6 linked regions of the Homo sapiens genome follow. The protein of the gene in region 5 purifies or fractionates together with the protein of the main gene of each other region. This does not show direct contact. Each region holds a gene or a part of one and is shown on either strand. Other genes may lie near its edges.

Region 1 (3,500 bases), on a different chromosome or scaffold from region 5:
ACACGGGCAATCCAGGAGGAGAGCCCTGATCGGGAACCAACCACGCTGGCACCCTGACTTCCAGACTGCAAACCTATGAGATCATAAATGTCTGCTGTTTAAACCACCTACTCTATGGTATTTTGCTGTGGCACCTAAGCAGATTAAATAGTCTGGTCACCTCAACTAAGTCCAAGCTCCTTAAGGTCTCCTCATGTCTTAGACTACTGTATGGCCCATTTTACCAGACATAGCATATATACCGCTGCTACTCAATTCCACAATGGAAAGAAAAACTCCTAAACACAACAGTCTACTTCCGAATTATATCCTCTTGATTCCTAAATTACTGGCCATATTTTTGTATTCAATACAGGAAAAACAATGTCATCACCAACATTCAGGGACAGGGGCATAAAGAAAGACTAAGGGAGGCTCATTCTTGTTAAGACCTAAAGCTGAGGAGGGTAAAGATAAGGCTTTTACATTCCTACTCCATTCATCTTCAACTCCTTTCCTGTGTCTACAACTCAGATGGAGGACTACTGATTTTCTGGATATGAAGCACTTGAAATGTTCTACATCCATCCTCACTCTGAGCTTCAACAAACTCTCCCCATCAATTTTTTGATAAAGTTGGTGCCCACTTTGCTGAATTTGAAATGAAAATATAAAAGGGCTGCCTAATATGCCACTAGGCATGGATTCTAAGTTTATAGTAAAATAAGATACTGGATAGTCCACAAGAAAGAGCCCTACAACTACTGTTATCAGAAAAAGACTAGTCCATAGGCTTATAAGCTCCTACATATGATCTCTTAAGTCACCAAAGTAGGAGTAACCACCTTTCCAGCCTTTCCCACAAGGCTACCCTTTAGATTCTTTTCAACTCTTCAAACTGCTTTAAATATGCTGAAGACAGTATGGTCTTCCTTGCCTGGCTCAGTGGTTTTTAACACTATTGGAAATAAAGTGAACAGGGAATATATCTTTTTGAAGGTATAAACCAGTTTGCAATATACTTGTACTCACTAATAAATTCACTTTAGTCTTTTAAGAGCATCATGTAGCAACACTGGCAATATATTTAATTATCCTTATAATGCTTGTACAATTCTCTATAAAAAGTTATAATGCAAGGCTTCCATTTCAGAATTAATCTGTATTTGTCACAGTCTGACCAGCTCTGATCAATTCTTTGTATTATAGTACTCCTAAAATAAGATACAACTCTATGACTCCTAAATGTCCTACATTAAATACATGACATGTTTCATTTGAAAACAAACAAAAAACGTAGGTTAACTAAAATAACCCACATACATCAAATGGAAAGTGAAACACAATTCTGACTTTGATGGAAAAAAACATTTTTACATTGTCCAAGTCAGTCAATATTACTCATTCTCTGAGGGTTTCTGACAGCCAATGTGTTTTCCATTATGTTCTTGGTAAAAAGCCATCTAATCTGAAATATTTAGCCTTTGGTTCAAATTCAGAAAGAGAGTGATTAAGTTGACAGGAAAATTAATACAGAGAAATAATTGCTTTCATGACATTTAGAAGAACAGAAAGTTAATAGTTTCTGGTCTCAAATGTTACTTTTTTTTTTGAGACGGAGTTTCGCTCTTGTTGCCCAGGCTGGAGTGCAATGGTGTGATCTCGGCTCACTGCAACCTCCGCCTCCCAGGTTCAAGCGATTCTACTGCCTCAGCCTCTCAAGTAGCTGGGATTACAGGCGGGTGCCACCACACCCAGCTGATTTTGTATTTTTAATAGAGATGGGGTTTGACCATGTTGGTCAGGCTGGTCTCAAACTCCTGACCTCAAGTGATCCACCCGCCTCGGCCTCCCGAAGTGCTGGGATTACAGGCGTGAGCCACCGTGCCCAGCAAATGTTACTTTTAACTATCCTATTGAGCATGTGCTCTTACATTGTCCTTTCAAATGCTCTCTGAAATAGGCTAGATATAGTTAGATATAAATTAGGGAAAAAAAGACTAGCTACAGGTCTGAGGTGCTCACATTATGGTATTCACTCTTTACCCTACCAGAGAATAGAATATTCTGGTTAATTCACTATTTAAGAATAAAGAGGCCGGGTGTGATGGCTCACACCTGTAATCCCAGCACTTTGGGAGGCCGAGGTGGGCGGATCACTTAAGGTCAGGAGTTCAAGACCAGCCTGGCCAAAATGGTGAAACCCCCTCTCTACTAAAAATACAAAAATTAGCTGGTTTTGGTGGCGGGCAACAGTAATCCCAGCTACTTGGAAGGCTGAGGCAGGAGAATCACTTGAACCTGGGAGACGGAGGTTGCAGTGAGCCAAGATCTGAGCCAAGATCGTGCCACTGCACTCCAGCCTGGGTCACAGAGTGAGACTCCGTCTCAAAAAAAAAAAAAAAAAAATTTAAAAAATTTAAAAAAAGAGATAAATCACAAAAACTTTCAAGTAGAACATAATTTTAAAAATCTGATGGTTAAAAAAATTACGTTTTTAATTTTTTACAGATAATGCATTTTATTATTTTCAGAGTACTATATTCACCATAAAATAAGTCTAAAGAGAATAATGAGGACTCTGTATTTATAATAAAATACACACATTTTCTTTTTAAATTCTATCCTTAAAAAAGGCGAGAAAAGGCAACTTTCAGAGAACTTTGTAAACCTTTCAAGTCTTCCAACAAAGTAGTACCAACAGAGGACTAAAGTCTTAAATAAGTCTCATTAAAGTGAAGGCTCACTCCCTCTGGTGGACAAAAGAAACTCCATATGCTATTTCCAGAATCAGTAAAGCAAGATAAGGAAGCCTTGTTAATGTTTTCTGAATGCTTCCTGCCTAGAATACATAAAAGACCTATATAGTTATTCTGAGAATAAATCTGGAAATGAAAGAGAACTGGAAAGGGGAAAAAAGGGGGAGGGAAACTAGCTGATGATACTGGTGCAAGGGAAGTCCTAACCTAGCTCCTCAATGGCTGTGTTGGGGAAGGACTTCAGCATCAGTCTCTCCTAAGTGAGCTCTGCCTCTGCTCTCTTCTCTGTCATAGGCCAACAGTTTTTTCCAAACTGCATGTCTAACCATTGTCAAGATGCTGCAGGTTGAGCATTCCTAATACAAAAATGCTAAAATCTGAAATGCTCCAAAATCTGAAACTCTCTGAGCACCAACATGATGCTCAAAGGAAATGCTCATTGGAACATTTTGGATTTTGGATTTCCAGATTAGGGCTGCTCAAATGGTATGTTTTCTCAAATATTCCAAGACCCAGAAAAATCCAAAATCTTTAACATTGCTGGTCCCAAGCATTGTTCAGATAAGGAAAATTCAATTTATATTTCAAACTGCCAAGTTTCTCCTCTATTATTTAGGCTTAGCCTCTCTGCATTAAACAAGGAGCTTTTGGAGAGCAGGAACCGTGCTTTGTTCATTTTTGTGTCCCCGGTACCCAACCCACTGTTTGGCATATGGTAGATGCTAATGTTGAATAAATGAAATGGTACTAGACTTCTAATCT
Region 2 (3,500 bases), on a different chromosome or scaffold from region 5:
TTTTTCTATGATTAGGAAAAGGAAATTATAAAAAAAAAAAGTCTTCAATTCTGACCAATACAGGACAAACATAGACTATAGTTGGTGTTTATTAGTACCAACAATATTACAAATAGTAGCATCTGTCGTTTTTTGAATACCTATTACCTGCTAGATACTTGGCATATTTTAGCTCATTTCAAACCCTCAAGGAAGGACTTTTCCTCCATTTTATTGATGGGGCATCTGAGATCCAGATGCTAAACAGCTTGCTAGGCTCACCCAGTTAGCATGTAGCAGAGCTGATCAAGAGAAGTAAGGGGGTCAGGTTTGGAGGACAAAGAAAAATCTGGCCTGGAGAATACAGAATAATCATCAACAAACCAGCCAGTTGCAGGGAGCTGATAAAGTCTATATGAAACAGAACACTAATTCACCAACCTGGGCGGTAACTATTTTATCTCCACTGGTAGCACTTGCCAAATCAAGAGAAGGCTGAGAATCCTTAACCGTACTTTCTGAAGCCATGCTTGCGGTTAGGAGAGAATCAGACGTAATATTCTCTTTGGGAACTGCAATGATAATAATAACAACAATAATAACAACCCTTTTTGTTTGATTCTTGTAACAACCCTGTGAGGAAAGTGGCTTGATTACTCTCATTTCCTATACAGGGAAACCATGGTTCAAACAAGTTATTTAATTTCCTCAAGACTATACAGCTCATACAAAAAAAAGATGCAGGACTTGAATTCAGACTTTAGGTCTCCAAATCCCAAGTTTTTTTCACCATGCCACTCTCTCTCAGATGGCAACAGAATTGAAAGTTTGAAGTCTGCTGAAGTGTTCAATTACAGTAAAGTAATTTTCACCAATGTAAACATTTTTACATTTTGTCTATTACTAAAGAAATAATTTTAATAACTTGGTTGCCAGTGAGTTTTTTAATAAAGTGAAATAAAGGCAGAAAGGTAAACAGTTTCAACTCCAAAATTTCACCACAAAGAGTTATTTCTCTCTTTTTTTTTTTTTTTGAGACAAGATTTCACTCTGATCACCCAGGCTGGAGTGCAATGGCGCGACCTTGGCTCACTGCAGTCTCTGCCTCCCAGGCCCAAGCAACTCTCCTGCCTCAGCCTCCCAAGTAGCTGGGACTACAGGCGCGTGCCACCATGGCCAGCTAACTTTTGTATTTTTTTTTGTTGTTGTTGCTCAGATGGGGTTTTGCCATGTTGCCCAGGCTGGTCTTGAACTGAGCTCAAGCGATCCGCCCGCCTTGGCCTCCCAAAGTGCTGGGATTACAGGCGTGAGCCACTGTGCCCAACCAACAGAGTGATTTCTCAATTAATACTTGCCATCTATATCAGGAGTTTTCAGAGTCTCAAATTCCAATTCGCTTTTCCTTTTTCTTGGTGGTGGAGCAGGTCGAGAAGGAGGTGGGGGTCTAGGAGGTGGGAAATTAGTTGGAGGAGGTGGGCGTGCTGGAACAGGCTTCTTTGTACTAGCCACTATATCAGGCTCTGGAGTAAGGTGTCTTGGGGGTTTGGCAGGGGCCACTTCTTCCACAGCGGCAAAATCTTTAGTAGATAAGGAGTCTGAGGACACAGGCTCTAAAACATCACCACCTCCTTTGACTTCCACTGCTTCCTTGTTCAATACTTCTGTTTCAGTTTCAAGCACATTAAGCTGCTCAGTTGAACTTGTTTGAGTTAACTTCGTGGTTTCATCTACTGGTTTCTCACAGGTTTCATCAGAAGGAAAGCATTTTTTTAATTCTAATTCAGTCTCTTCAAATGTATTCTGACTCTCTGCCTTTTGGGATTCTTCCGGTAGTACTTGATCTATGGCTAACAGTCCGGGTATATTGCTCAGATCTGTTCTAGCCACAATAGGACTGGCAGTAGCTTGATCAGAGAGTTCTTTTCCTTTGGAATCCAAAGAGTCATCTTCAAGCTGTAGTACTTTCTGACTCTCCTCAATAATACTTTCAATAATCTGATGAAAGGGTTAAAAGTAGTTTTTAAAAATGAAGCTATTTATAAGAACACAGTAACAGCTAATCATTTACATAGTACTTAGTATGTGCCAGGCAATGTTCTTAACACTTTACATATTTTAATCTTTACAACAACCTTATGAGATTCTACTCCTACTGTCACCATTTTACAAATTAGGGAACTAATCAAATGATTTGTCCAAGGTCACAAAGCTAGTAAGTGATGAAGCAGGTATAAACCCAGGGAGTTTGATTCCAGCATCTATACTCTTAACCCTCATAATAGCAAATTTGTGTTAATACTTAGGTACAAAAGATCAAATAATCCTGTAAAATCAAGTTCAATCCTAAACTTACATTAAGACTCAATATCCTGATTCATTTACATATTTATGCCAAACTTGTTGTAATACCAGCCTAATGGTTTGAGCCTACTTAACCAAACCACGATAATCCAAATCCCCAGGAGAAGAATTCAAGTTGTTTAGCTCTGAACTCAAGCTTATGACCCAAAAACCAGCAGATGCAGGGAGATTAACATTCTTAAACAGACTACACCTAAACTCCACTATGTGGACTGATGGCAGGACCATGAAAAGAGTTCAAATACCCAGTCCACCTTGTCTTTTCCCTTCCTTTCTTTTTCTTTTTTGAAATGGAGTCTCACTCTGTCACCCAGGCTGGAGTGCAGTGGCACGATCTTGGCTCACTGCAACCTCTGCCTCCCAGGTTCAAGCAATTCTCCTGCCTCAGCCTCCCTAAAAGCTGAGATTACAGGTGCTCCACGCCGGGATAATTTTTGTATTTTTAGTAGAGACGAGGTTTCACCATGTTGGCCAGGCTGGCCTTTAACTCCCGACCTCATGTGATCCACCTGCCTCAGCCTCCCAAAGTGCTGGGATTACAGGCATGAGCCACTGCGCCTGGCCCCCTTTCTTATATGTAGCTTAAAATATAAACAGGCTTTCTATTATCTTCTGCCAACATTTAGAATATATTTTCTCCCCAGTCTTGTCATTACTAATATTAAATCTCCCAGATCACTTATCCTGCCACCATGTCCAACCATGAACAACTTCTGCTTTCTCAATTCCCTGGCTTCAGAAAGTTAACAGAATGCATCATAGAACCATCCTAATCTGGTTTACTACAATTTCATGCTAACTTGAACTGGGTATTACTGCTGCTCAGTAATATTCATCCCTGATTTCTTAGCATGTTCTATATGTTAGTTTTTCTCAAACTTCAAATTGTTAACCTTAGAAATTACCTTGCTTTCACCAAAACTAACCAGAGTCCAACCAATTTGTCAATTAGGTGGTTACTGAGCACTGAGAACCTCAATGATAACAGTGATAACAGAAGTCATATTACAATGGATTTGAGATTGAATAAGAGGTGAAGATACAGAGACATTAGCACGGTCTGAGTTTTCAAAAAGCTTAGCTATAAATGCAAAAAGACTTCGATAAAGTGACCCAGCACTTTTATAACCTGAAGGGAAGGAACTACTGGAAAAGAAGAT
Region 3 (3,500 bases), on a different chromosome or scaffold from region 5:
CTGGCCAGGCCATCAAGGCTCACGTCATCAATGATAAGTCACGGTAATACACGCACCCGATATGCTGTGACGAGACAGGCACTTCACCTCTGTGATATTCTCCCCCTAAACCCATAACCCGTCTAGTCACGAGAAAAAATATCAGATAAATGCAAACTGAGCAATAGTCTACAAAACACCTGATCAGTACTTCTCAAACTGTCAAGGTCATAAAAAACAGAGAAAGAATGAGAAATTGTGATAGACTAGAGGAGACTAGGCAGACACAACTAAATGTAATATGGTACTCTAGACTGGCTACTAGAACAAAAAGAGGGCATTAATAGAAAGTTGGTGAAATCCAAATAAAGTCCAGAGTTTAGGTGACAGCGATGTGCCAAGGTTAGTTTCTTTGTCTTGACAAATCTACCATAGTAATATAAGATGTTGATGATGGGGGAAACTAGGTGAAGGGTAGATGGGAACTCTGTATCACTTCTGCCACTTTTCTGGAAATCTAACATTTTTCCAAAGTTGAAAGTTTATCAAAAAGAAAGCAGTACACTCGCAAGCATATATACCCTATGATTCAACTATATAAAATATATGAATAGAGATAGATTGGAAAAATAGTGGTATTGTATTACTAGGGGCCACTAAAAATTTTTTTCCTTTATTACTAGCATGTTCTTTTAAACTTCCTAAAGAAGCCCATGATAACTGGGAACACGGGCCCTTCACTGAGGCAGGAGAATCACATGAGCCACACATGATATCCACTGGAGGAGACAGAAAGTCTGGGAGTGTCAACTGAATTGAAAGAAAAGGAAAGCAGAGATGACAGACAGCACACCGGAAGTGACAGGATAAGCAGTGCATCTAGCTGGGAAATATGTACACTGCCTCCTTCTATATCTCAAAAATCATCTAGAATGTTAGAGTGATTTTCTGGGTCAGAGGGAAGACACGTCTTCATTTGTTAACTTTTAGATTTGCGTACCAACTTATTACTGTAAGCAATTTAATTGCAAAGGATAAAGAACAAGATATGATGCATCATCAGGAGAAAAGTCAAGAATCCATGTTTAAATTCAGTTACCTTATGTAATCGAAGGTATACATGAGCCGAAGAGAGTTTGTCCACATGAAACCTACAAAGAATGAAAACCACTTTTAGCAAGAGGTACAAGACAATCATCTCCTCAGGCCACATGCCATTTAAAGCATTCTGTTCTAAAAAGTCTTCACTCCATGCCTGCCACATGTGAAGCATCATGAGGAGTATAAAGCACAGTCACCACCTCCAAAGGGCTCCCCATCACCATGAAGAGGTACGAGAAACACTGAATTATGGAGCTGTGAGTAAGTGCCAAGATGAGTAGAGATACTAAATATTAACTGTACTGGGAAGGGTGATTTTTCAAGATATAAAAAGAACTATCAGTGATCAAAGGCTTCATGATAAAAAGGAGGCAGTGAGATTTGGTTGGCCCCTGACTGAAGCATAGGACTTAGAGCAAAACCAAGGAAAGGAATTTCAGGTGAAAAGAGTGGGGGATGAAAGAAGTCAGCAAGTCTCCAATGCTGCCAGCCTGGGAGATTAGCAGAACCACAGTTTGGCGGAAACAGATGACAGTTTCGTTTGTGACATCCCAAATTTCAAGTTATAGCAAAACAATCCAAAGAGAATGTCGAATAGAGAGCTGGAAGAGTTAGGTGGGGCCTAAAGACGCTAAGCAGAACACGTCATTAAATGGGTCACAATTCAATAATGTAACCCAATAATTCACAAGCACAACAGTTCATCCGGCCCTATATTCTGACAGTGATACCAATATATGTCTCTTGGGTGAGCACTGCCCTTTACTGACATTGTCCTAAAAACATTCAGAATGTCCCCCACCCCTTAAATTTACCTTTCATGATGGATCTATCATCTATCAATTTAATTAAACCTTTTAAAATCTATGCAACATTCAGGATATGAGATTTTCATGTTTTCAATTCACCCAATGAACTTGACTTTCTCTTTCCAATACCCAGAAATGCCCCCTCCGCATCCCAGCATCACACAACAAACAAGGTAACACTATCGCCACTTCGTGATTCTGTTAACTTTAGTTGATATGATTTGGATTTGCGTCCCCACCAAGTCTCATGTCGAATTGTAATCCCCAGCGTTAGAAGTGGGGCCTGGTGGGAGGTGACTGGATCATGGGGGTGGATTCTTCATGAATGGGTTAGCACCATCCCTTTGGTGCTATTCTTATGATAGAGTTCTCATGAGATCTGTTTAAAAGTGCACAGCCCCGGCACCCTGCTCCTGCCATGTAAGCCGCCTCGCTTCCCCTTTGCCTTCTGCCATGATTAAAAGTTCTATGAATGAGGCCTCCCAGAAACAGACACTGCCATGCTTCCTGTATAGCCTGCCAAACCATGAGCCAATTAAACCTCTTTTCTTTACAAATTACCCAGTCTCAGGTATTTCTCTATAGCAATGCAAGATGGACTAATACATTAGTCATACTGCTTCCTTGGTCCTTACCTTTCCAGACTGAAGAATGTTCAGAAAATCCTAAAGAGGCATCATTACATCCCATTATGTTTCTCTAGCCATTTTCTTAAGCACTAATAAATGTTTTAGAGGTGAAAATGGTCACCTTCACACCTAGTACAAGATGTAGACTGTATGATTCTATATAAAAGTGCCCTCTTTAAAGAGGTTAGTCATCTTGCTATTCACTATGCATACAGAAAAATATTAGGCACTTTTGGCACACAGTTTATGATGACTCGAGGTTTTACTCTTAATCATTAGTGATAGCCAGAAATGGACATAACATCTTATTTGACTTACATTTCTCCAAGTGGTTCACTTACTCATTTGCATTCCCATGTGAGAGATTCATACTAATTATCACCTTCAGCTGGACATTTTCCAGCCAGAAAAACCTGTGCTTTTTGCAAATCTAAAAATTACATATCTCATTATCCTCTTTCAGAATCTTAGGAAAATATCACACTAGTAACCAAGATAACTGAAAAGTAACTTTACCCATTCCAACTTTTATTTGCCTTAAGCCAGTTCTCTATTTACAACATCTTCTTCCCTATGTACCTATAATAGATTGAATTCTGATTTTTCTTAAAGGTCTCTGATGTAGAATTTTGTCAAAAGAAATACCCAAATAATTCAATATATATTTAATGATATTCATACATAAGTAGAGAAAGAACCAAAACACACACAGGAATATCACTGCCAAAATACAGCAACTTTATCAATATACACCAATTTCAGGTTTGTATATGATAGATACACCTCTACAAAGAGCAGGGGAGAATGGATGAAAGTATAAGAGAAAAAAAAAATCCAGCTCTATAAACAAACTATCTTGAGCGAGTTTCCTTAAAAAAGAAGCAAACGACTTCTCCAATCTTTCTAAACATTTATTCAAAGTTTAAATTACAGCCATAGTTCCCTCTTATCCTTGTTATCTTCCTCTCCCTGTTACCCTTTC
Region 4 (3,457 bases), on a different chromosome or scaffold from region 5:
AATTGTTCTGTAAGGTGGATCAATTTGGTATAGGCATAGAGAAACCAAACAACTTAGCAGTAATGCACAAAATCCCTAATGTTACTCTTTTAAAAAAAACAACTCTGAATATACCACGTTAGCATAAATTTGTTTCCACATGGTAAAGGGTTCAGATTATTCCGTTCTAATTATGATACATCTAATGCATGTAGTGCCCTTTCATCCCTCAATAACTCACATAAAATAGTAAATAAAAAAAGAGGGAGAGAAAACCTTAATTCAATGAGAATAAGGTAGGAACACTTGGGATGTGTTCTGTCACACTTAGGAATTTCGGTGGGGTTTCTGTACTAGACATTAATTTTATTTGGATATCTAAAATAACTTGCTAGTAAGCAAGGAGTAGAATGATGGATATATTCATGAAAAGGTTACATTTTGGTGATGTTGATCCTGATATTTGTTTAAAGACAATGGGGTGGGAAGGTTGGGGACATAGCCAAAACAAGTTTAGGTCACAACTTGACTCATACTATTTCCTCTAATAAGTAAAAACATCTTTAAATTATTAACTTTTAATAGTAGTACTCTCATACTAGTAGGAAACAAACTTTTGGGCTAATCAGATTTGCCCCAGCTTCTCTGTCATATTTAAAAACAAAGGAAATGTTCAGCTATTACAGAATATTCTATGATCTCTCCTTCTCATAAGTTGTAGAAATACATACTGAAACAGCCTTCACTGTATAATATTTTTTGCATTTGATTTCTGTTAAGTTCAAGTTTACAAAATATACTACTTATTATCAGTAAATTCTTACCAACTCGTTTTAGCTAAAAACAAAAGTAAATGCTTACTCCTTTAAACATTGTAAATATTTTCAGAGAGGAAGAGTAGAAGATGTTGTTGTTAGTGATGAATGCAGAGGAAAGCAGCTTGGCAAATTGTAAGTAGGCAGAAACAAGGTAACCCTGGATAAATTTTGTTCCAATTTAGTTTCTTAACAAGATACTTGTTTGAAGTTCTTTTTGGCTTCATTAATTCTGAACTTATTCTCACTCTAATAGTTTAGACTGAATTTCATGAAGAAATAAAGTATTATTATACATATTTTGCCTTAAAGTTTGAAAATTGGAAGCATACTTCTTTACAGACAGTAACATCTTTAAATTACTAACTTTTTATAGTAATGCTCTCGTCCTAGTAGGAGATAAACTTTTGGGCTAATCGGATTTGCCTCAGCTTCTCTGTCATATTTAAAAACAAAGGAAATGTTCAACTATTACAGAATATTCTGTGATCTCTCATTCTCATAAGTTGTAGAAATACATACTGAAACAGCCTTCACTGTATATATCTAAATCATTTAAAATAAATATAAATAAGTGGTATTGATTTATTGCCATTTTATAAGAACTTGTAGTTCTTATTTATTATAATTTTTAGTTTTTGAGACAGGGTCTGTTTTTGACAGCTCTGTCACCCAGGCTGAGGTGCAGTGGCTCAATCTCAGCTCACTGCAGCCTCAGCCTCCTGGGCTCAAGCAATCCTCTTCAGCCCCCCAATTAGCTGGGACTACAGGTACACGCCACACCTGGCTAATTTTTAAAAATTTGTAGAGATGGGGCCTCATCATGTTGCTCAGGCTGGTCTCAAACAGTGCTCCTGCCTTGGCCTCCCAAAGTGCTGGGATTACAGGTGGGAGCCACTGTGCCTGGCCCAAGAACTTGCTTTTTAACACTAACTCTTCTGAGTTTTAAGGAATTAACAAATATTAAATACCTGCTTATGTACCAGATGCTATTCTAGGTATTTGGAATACCTCAGTGAACAAAACAGACCGATTTCTTGTGTTCTAGTCTATATAATTTATGTTTTTTTTTTTTTTTTTTTTTTTTTTAAGAGATGGGATCTCTTTCTGTTGCCCAGGCTGGAGTATACAGTGGTACGATCACAGCTCACTGCAGCCTTGAATTTCTGGGGCTCAAGTGAGCCTCTCGCCTCAGCCTCCCAAGTAGCTGGGACTACAGGTGCATGCCGCTGCACCCAGCTAATTTTTTATAGAGATAGGGTTTTGCTATGTTGCTTTGGCTAGTCTCGAACTTCTGGACTCAAGTGATCCTTGGCCTCCTAAAGTGCTGGAATTACAGGCATGAGCCACTGCAACCAGCCAGGCATACTTCAGTCAAGGTCTTTTGTTTTTTTTAAAAATAGGATTTTTTAGTCTGTTCAAACATGGGCAGACCCTTCAAGTTTGTATATCTTTTATAGTTTTTATCCTCTAAGGCACTTAGATCCACACTTTAATACTGGGTTTGGATTCATTAAGAAATTTTGTATAGATGTAGACTTGCTTTGTTTCCACTTCATATTAATTAGACCAATCTTGAGTTAATCTGATACACACCTTCACAAATATTAAAGTAGCTTTAAAAATGATTAAAGAGCAAAGCTATTATGTACTCATTTTATGTGGGTATGTCGACTGCTCCGAAGTTGTTTAAATAGATTTAAATAAAGAATTTTTACAAAATAATTTTGGTCATTTTTTTTTTTAAAGGTTGAGTTTTTAGTGTTAACATGCATCTTAAAATTCGTTTTTCTTTTTCAAGACAGAGACTCACTCTGTTGCCCAGGCTGGAGTGCAGTGGCACAATCACTACTCACCGCAGCCTTGACCTCTCTGGGCTCAGGTGATCTTCCCCCCTCAGCCTCTGGAGTAGCTGCGACTTTAGGCATGTGCCATCATGCCCTACTAATTTTTATATTTTGTAGAGATGGGGTTTTGCCGTGTTTCCCAGGCTGGTGTCAAACCCCTGGGCTCTAGCGATCGCCTGCCTCGGCTTCCCAGAGTGCTAGGATTACAGGTATGAGTCACTGCACCTAGCCTTAAATTTCATTTTTAAAGAGGGCTTAGGGTGAGTTTTGTATTTGTCCTGTTTATTAGTGAGCTGGAGATTACTAGATAAAAGTATATTTGACTCTAAGTAAAAATGCTTTGGTGATTTAAATGCTTATCAACTTACATGAATGCAGTGGGAAAAGCCATAATCTAAACCTGTTTCTAAGGAAACTTAAGTTTTATAACATTAATTCATATTGTTACTAGAATCAATTTTTATTAATAAATGCTATCTCCTCACCCTACCCCCTTTTTAAATTTCAGGTTATTATCAACCCTTACTTTGCTAAGCAAGAAACTGAACTGTTACAAGATTACCCTTGAATGTCTACCACAAAATGTTGGTTTCTATAAAAAGTTTGGATATACTGTATCTGAAGAAAACTACATGTGTCGGAGGTTTCTAAAGTAAAAATCTTGTAAGAAAATTGTCAAAGGGGCTAATGCTACAAGGCTACACTCTTCCTAGAGTTGAAATATTTTGTTGCTGCAGCCGAGTGACCTCCATAAATACTGGACTGAAAAAACATTGTAATACTACAAGTATAATGACATTTAGAAGATTACTTTGG
Region 5 (2,863 bases):
CTTCTTTTTGAATTTAGATCTAGAAAATCTATAGCTTCATGTCTTTGCAGGATAAGAATCACAAATAGTAACGGCAAAAACCAACACAATTTCAAAATCATAAATATATAATAATTTTTAAATCTATTGTGCTATTTGCTCAGGTTATAGGATTTCTTTAAAAATCATACAATAGATATTTATTAACTACCCTTTCTCACTACCTTTATACAGGAAAATAGCTGAATTTTAAGTCACACCGAAAAAAAGAGGGGTGCACCCACATACTAAAATGGCACAGGGGGAGAACGATAGTTTAGTCACGCACTTAGAATAAGCTAAAAATACAGACACAGAGAGAGTCAGTGTAGATAGACAATTATTTTCCAGAGGTCACAAACCACTTTATGATGTAAGACTTTCATAATGTCTGATTCCATACATCTCTATGTGATCATATTATATTTAATATTGTTTTGAGACAGAGCTCCTGCCTGTAGAGAATTGACTCTGCAATTAATAGCTATAATCTACTCCCCATGGTTACCCTGTCTTCTTGGAGAAAAACAAAATACAAGTGCAGTAACAAGTATTTAATCATAAGGCATCTTAAGATTTTACCAATAGATAATTCAATTTTCCACTGCATTTTTTAAATTAAATTTTCTTCTTTTATTTTTAAGCTCCAACTAAGAACCTCTGATAAAAAAAAAATAATAGTTACTTACTTAGGTAAGTAGCCATCTGGGGAGGAAGTTTTAAAGATTTGGTAATGTTATTAAGTAAGGTGGATAGGTACCCTGTCGGCTGCTTCTTGGAATTAACTTGATAATGGACATTGTAGTATAACAATCATTTGGTTTACTTTTAAAACATCACTAAATTATTTTTAAGGATACAATAGATGTGAAAATATTGATTATTTGAAATGGTCACTCTTTTTGCTGCTTAGGGCTACACATAAGCCATTCTCAAGAGATAAAGTATGAATTTTGGAGTTGAAGAATGTACAGAGTGATTTTGAGAAAATTAAAAAAGAATGCATTGAGTTAAATTCACATACCTGCTCTGAGAATGGGAGAAATTTTAGCAAGAATATTTTTATTATTTTACATTTTGGATGTGGGCTAGTATAGAAACAATAGAACAAAGTATTTGTATTCACAGAAATAGAGTATGTGGACTTCAGCCAGTGATTTGAGAAGCCTACAACTCCAATTCAATACAATCAATTGTTTATTACATGTAAATGCTTACCCATGGGTCCTCTAATATTCCTCTTACTTCAGTAATTATGACATATTATTCTGGGTTTTTGTTTATTTATTTGCCATATGTGACTGTCCTATTAACACTTCTTTTTTTTTTTTTTTGTAAACTTTTAGAGAGGAAAATATGTGCAACTAATACAAAGTTTACACAAAATATATTTCTCATAAATGACCAGAAAAAATTATACCTCACTGACTGAGTTCGTCCTATTGGGATTAGCAGACACGCTGGAGCTACAGATTATCCTCTTTTTGTTTTTTCTTGTGATTTATACACTTACAGTACTGGGAAATCTCGGGATGATCCTCTTAATCAGGATCGATTCCCAGCTTCACACACCCATGTATTTCTTCCTGGCTAACCTGTCCTTTGTGGACGTTTGTAACTCAACTACCATCACCCCAAAGATGCTGGCAGATTTATTATCAGAGAAGAAAACCATCTCTTTTGCTGGCTGCTTCCTACAGATGTACTTCTTTATCTCCCTGGCGACAACCGAATGCATCCTCTTTGGGTTAATGGCCTATGACAGGTATGCGGCCATATGTCGCCCGCTGCTTTACTCCTTGATCATGTCCAGGACCGTCTACCTAAAAATGGCAGCCGGGGCTTTTGCTGCAGGGTTGCTGAACTTCATGGTCAACACAAGCCATGTCAGCAGCTTGTCATTCTGTGACTCCAATGTCATCCATCACTTCTTCTGTGACAGTCCCCCACTTTTCAAGCTCTCTTGTTCTGACACAATCCTGAAAGAAAGCATAAGTTCTATTTTGGCTGGTGTGAATATTGTGGGGACTCTGCTTGTCATCCTCTCCTCCTACTCCTACGTTCTCTTCTCCATTTTTTCTATGCATTCGGGGGAGGGGAGGCACAGAGCTTTCTCCACGTGTGCCTCTCACCTGACAGCCATAATTCTGTTCTATGCCACCTGCATCTATACTTACCTGAGACCTAGTTCCAGCTACTCCCTGAATCAGGACAAAGTGGCTTCTGTGTTCTACACAGTGGTGATTCCCATGTTGAATCCTCTGATCTACAGCCTCAGGAGTAAGGAAGTAAAGAAGGCTTTAGCGAATGTAATTAGCAGGAAAAGGACCTCTTCCTTTCTGTGATTGTTTGGCTAAAAATCTCAACTAAAGAGCATATTTTAGTTACTTTCAAAGTCTAGTTTATATCTACATTTTTTTATTAGAATATTTTCTCAGTAAACACATTCTGTTAATAGTTGTATCCAGTTAGGGATAAAGAAAGTTACCAAACTGATTCAAGATCATGGCATGTTGACTTTACTATGATTCTATATATCTTTGTTAGGTTCTCCAAAATAATGAATATTTTTAAATGAAATTTCATCTAGAAATCAAATGGAATATATGTTCACAGACCAAAGCCACAATGATACATGAAACTGGAAATATAAAATAATTTCTATTATCCATTCTTTTTTTCTTATGCATTATTTTTCACCATTTATGATTTTTAAGGGATTGTTAAATATCACATAGGTGAGAAATGCTATAAGTTTAATATATATTTCTCCTTTGTATTCACTGAACTACTTCTTGGGGGAATAAAATCAAATTTTAGGACTATAGTTTTAATAGGAATTCTA
Region 6 (3,500 bases), on a different chromosome or scaffold from region 5:
CCTACAGCCAGGAGGCATATGTGGATTATAAATATGTGACCTCTAGAGGCCCCATCTTTCCTCAAAAATATACATGCAAAAATGCAAAATCTGGGCTGCGCACGGTGGCTCACGCCTGTAATCCCAACGCTTTGGGAGGCCGAGGCAGGTGAATCACGAGGTCAGGAGTTCGAGATCAGGCTGGCCAACATGGTGAAACCCATCTCTACTAAAAATACAAAAATTAGCTGGGTGTGGTGGCACGTGTCTGTAGTCTGAGCTACTCAGGAGGCTGAGGCAGAAGAATCGCTTGAACTCGGGAGGTGGAGGTTGCAGTGAGCTGAGATCGCGCCACTGCACTCCAGCCTGGGCAACAGAGCGAGACTTGGTCTCAAAAAAAAAAAAAAAAAGGCAAAATCTGAATCTAATCATAAGGAAACATAAGACAAATAAGAATACAGGGCCATTCTACAAAAAAATTAAATAAATAAATAAATAAATAAATAAAAGATAGCTTGCACACATCACAAATGTCAATGTCTTGAAAGAAAAAGGATGAGGAACCAATTTAAAGGACATGAAAGGACACCAGATTAAAGGAGAAGAGACCAAAGGGACCTGACAATGAAAGGTAATATGCAATCCAGATGGAACCTGGACCAGGAAAAAAATGCTATAAAATTCATTATTAGGACAATTAGCAAAATTTGAATATGGACTTTGGATGAAATAATAGCATTATATCAATGTTAACTTTTTCTGAAATTAACAATTGATTGTGTTTATATTTGTATGCAAGAGAATGTCCATGTTCTTAGGAAATATATGCTGAACTATTTAGGGGTAAAGAGGACTGATGTCTCCGACTTACTCTGCAATGGTTCATTAAAAAAATTGTTCATGTGGATATATATGGCGAGAAAGAGAGCAATAAAGTGAACACAGCAAGATGTTAACCTGTGAATATGGACAAACAGGTCTATGAGAGCTCTAGGTTCTACTCTTGCTCTTCAATAAGTTTTAAATCATTTCAAAATAATAAATTATAACATCTGGGAAAAAATGCATAGGGCCAGCCCCACCCCAGCAGAGGACCCCTCAGGCCACCAAACTCAATCAAGGGCATGCTACTCTACCCCTGGAATAGTAGCTAGACCTCATCACACTGGGTCCTCACACCAACCCACAGAAGCAGCTATTCTTAACCTCATTAATGACTGGAGAAACTGAGGCACGGGGTATGAATCCCCTATCCCTACAGTAAGGAAATAGTAGACGCCATGGTTCTAACTCAAACCATCAAATACTTATCTGGACTGTTCTATTATATGCCTTAGAAGAAAAGTTCATTTTAAAAATGCATGAATACCGTATAGTATTCTCATGTGCTTAACACAAATTAAATAAATGTTAATCGTAGAAAGCTATGTGGTCCAACCTTCTTATTCACCCTCCAGACTTGGAAACAGCATAAAAGTCCATAGCATAAGCAATCACAAGAGAGAAAATATGATCTAAGTTATTTCAAAGAGAAAAGAAAAATAAAAACTAAGTGCCCATTATGGGGATGACAAAGTTTAATTTAAAAAGCAAAAAAGAAATCTTTGTGACTTTGGGATAAAGACTGCATAGATATGACACAAAAAGCATGAATCATAAAAATAAACATTGATAAAGTGGACCTTTCTTAAAAACTATTAAGTAACCTAGATGAATGGAAGATAATGTTTGCAACACACATAGTAAACAAAGGATTTATATCTAGAAAATATAAAGAACTCATAAAACTTAATAATAGGAACACAAACAATCCAACAAAAAAATGGGCAAAGATTTTGAACAGACACTTCACAAAAGAAGATATACACATGTCCAATAAGCACATGAGAAGATGCATAACATTATTACCCATCAGAGAAATGCAAATCAAACCACAATGAGATACTACTTCACACCCACTATAACGGCTACAATAGAAAAGACAGACAACAACAAGTGTTGACAAGGATGTGACAAAATTGTAACCCTCAAAATGGCTGATGGGAAATGTAAAATGGTGTAGCCACACAAGTAAACAGTTTGTCAGTTTCTTAAAATGTTAAACATAGATTTACCATAAGTCCTGTAATTCCACTCCTAAGTATCTACCAAAGAGGAATGAAAACACGTCCACACAAAAACTAGGGTGCAAATGTTCACAGTAGCATTTTCCATAATAGTCAAAATGTAGAAACAAATCAAATGTCCATCAACTGGTGAACAGATAAACAAAATATGGTATATCCTGACACTGGAATTCTTTTTTTTTTTTTGAGACACAGTCTCACTCTGTCACCCAGGCTGGAATGCAGTGGCACAATCTGGGCTCTCTGCAACCTCTGCCTTCCAGGTTAGGTGATTCTCATGCCTCAGCCTCCCGAGTAGCTAGAATTACAGGCATGTGCCACCACTCCTGGCTAATTTTAGTATTTTTAGTAGAGACAGGGTTTCACCATGTTGGCCAGGCTGGTCTTGATCTAAGTTATCCTGACCTCAGGTGATCCACCTGCCTTGGCCTCCCAAAGTGCTGGGATTACAGGCATGAGCCACCATGCTCGGCCTGACACTGGAATTCTATCCACTGTGTAATAAAAAGGAACAAAGTACCAATATATGCTACAACATGGATGAACCTCAAAAACATCCTGGGTGAAAGAAGACCACATATTGTATGAGTCCATCTATATAAAAATGTCCAGAAAAGGCAAATCTAAAGAACAGAGTAGATTCGTGGTTCCCTAGGGAGGAAGTAGAATTGAGAAATAACTGCAAATGAATACAAAGTTTCTTCTGGAATGGAACTGTTCTAAAATAAGACGGTGGTGACAGTTACACGACTCTGCAAATATGCTACCAACCATTGAGTCCTACACTGAAAACAGGTGAATTTTATGGTATGTAAATTATACCTCACTCAATAAAGATTTACAAAAAGAGAGATATGCAACCTCATTAGTCATCACTGAAATGCAAATTAAAATCAAATATCACTGCACACCTACTAGAATGGTTAAAATGTAAAAGACTGACAAGCGATGAAAAGATATGAAACAAGTAGAACTCTCATTTTACATTCCTACTAACAGTTGGTAGGAATGTAAAAGGGTGCAGTGCATTTGAATATTGTTCCCCAAAAAGATATGTCCGAATCCAAAAACCCGGCACGTGTGAATGTAACCTTATTTGGAAAAAGTGTCCTTGCAAATGTAATTAAGTTGAGGCTCTTAAGGATCTCAGGATCATCCTGGATTTAGGACGGGTCCTAATCCAATGACTGGCATCCTTTTAACAGAAAGGAGAGAGAGATTTGAGACACAGAAACAGAGAGAAGGCCATGTGAAGATGGAAGCAGAGAAGTTATGAAGTGATGCTACCACAAGCCAAGGAACACCAGGGACACTAGAAGCTGGAAGAGGCAAGGAAGGAGTTTCCCCTAGAGTCCTTCAAAGGGAGTATGGCCCTATTGATGCCTTGATTTCAAT

What was found.
Region 1: the proteins of OR5F1 (region 5) and HMGCS1 purify together in Homo sapiens (affinity purification with mass spectrometry; 3 studies listed by BioGRID and IntAct, with this or other methods). This does not show direct contact.
Region 2: the proteins of OR5F1 (region 5) and WDR44 purify together in Homo sapiens (affinity purification with mass spectrometry, with the first as the bait; one large-scale study listed by BioGRID). This does not show direct contact.
Region 3: the proteins of OR5F1 (region 5) and CCDC25 purify together in Homo sapiens (affinity purification with mass spectrometry; 2 studies listed by BioGRID and IntAct, with this or other methods). This does not show direct contact.
Region 4: the proteins of OR5F1 (region 5) and GNPNAT1 purify together in Homo sapiens (affinity purification with mass spectrometry; 2 studies listed by BioGRID and IntAct, with this or other methods). This does not show direct contact.
Region 6: the proteins of OR5F1 (region 5) and FTO purify together in Homo sapiens (affinity purification with mass spectrometry; 2 studies listed by BioGRID and IntAct, with this or other methods). This does not show direct contact.

Annotation. Positions count from the first base shown.
Region 1 is NC_000005.10:43,303,413-43,306,912, forward strand, and holds part of HMGCS1 (hydroxymethylglutaryl-CoA synthase, cytoplasmic), read right to left. Parts: intron 1-3,500. UniProt on the Homo sapiens protein: Catalyzes the condensation of acetyl-CoA with acetoacetyl-CoA to form HMG-CoA, which is converted by HMG-CoA reductase (HMGCR) into mevalonate, a precursor for cholesterol synthesis.
Region 2 is NC_000023.11:118,391,106-118,394,605, reverse strand, and holds part of WDR44 (WD repeat-containing protein 44), read right to left. Parts: intron 1,975-3,500; coding exon 1,335-1,974; intron 552-1,334; coding exon 421-551; intron 1-420. UniProt on the Homo sapiens protein: Downstream effector for Rab11 which regulates Rab11 intracellular membrane trafficking functions such as endocytic recycling, intracellular ciliogenesis and protein export.
Region 3 is NC_000008.11:27,755,641-27,759,140, forward strand, and holds part of CCDC25 (coiled-coil domain-containing protein 25), read right to left. Parts: intron 2,450-3,500; exon of another isoform or gene 1,131-2,449; coding exon 1,079-1,130; exon of another isoform or gene 663-1,078; intron 1-662.
Region 4 is NC_000014.9:52,778,151-52,781,607, reverse strand, and holds part of GNPNAT1 (glucosamine 6-phosphate N-acetyltransferase), read left to right. Parts: intron 1-867; coding exon 868-929; intron 930-3,149; coding exon 3,150-3,297; 3' UTR 3,298-3,457.
Region 5 is NC_000011.10:55,993,181-55,996,043, reverse strand, and holds OR5F1 (olfactory receptor 5F1), read left to right. Parts: upstream 1-1,418; coding exon 1,419-2,363; downstream 2,364-2,863. UniProt on the Homo sapiens protein: Odorant receptor.
Region 6 is NC_000016.10:53,707,156-53,710,655, reverse strand, and holds part of FTO (alpha-ketoglutarate-dependent dioxygenase FTO), read right to left. Parts: intron 1-3,500.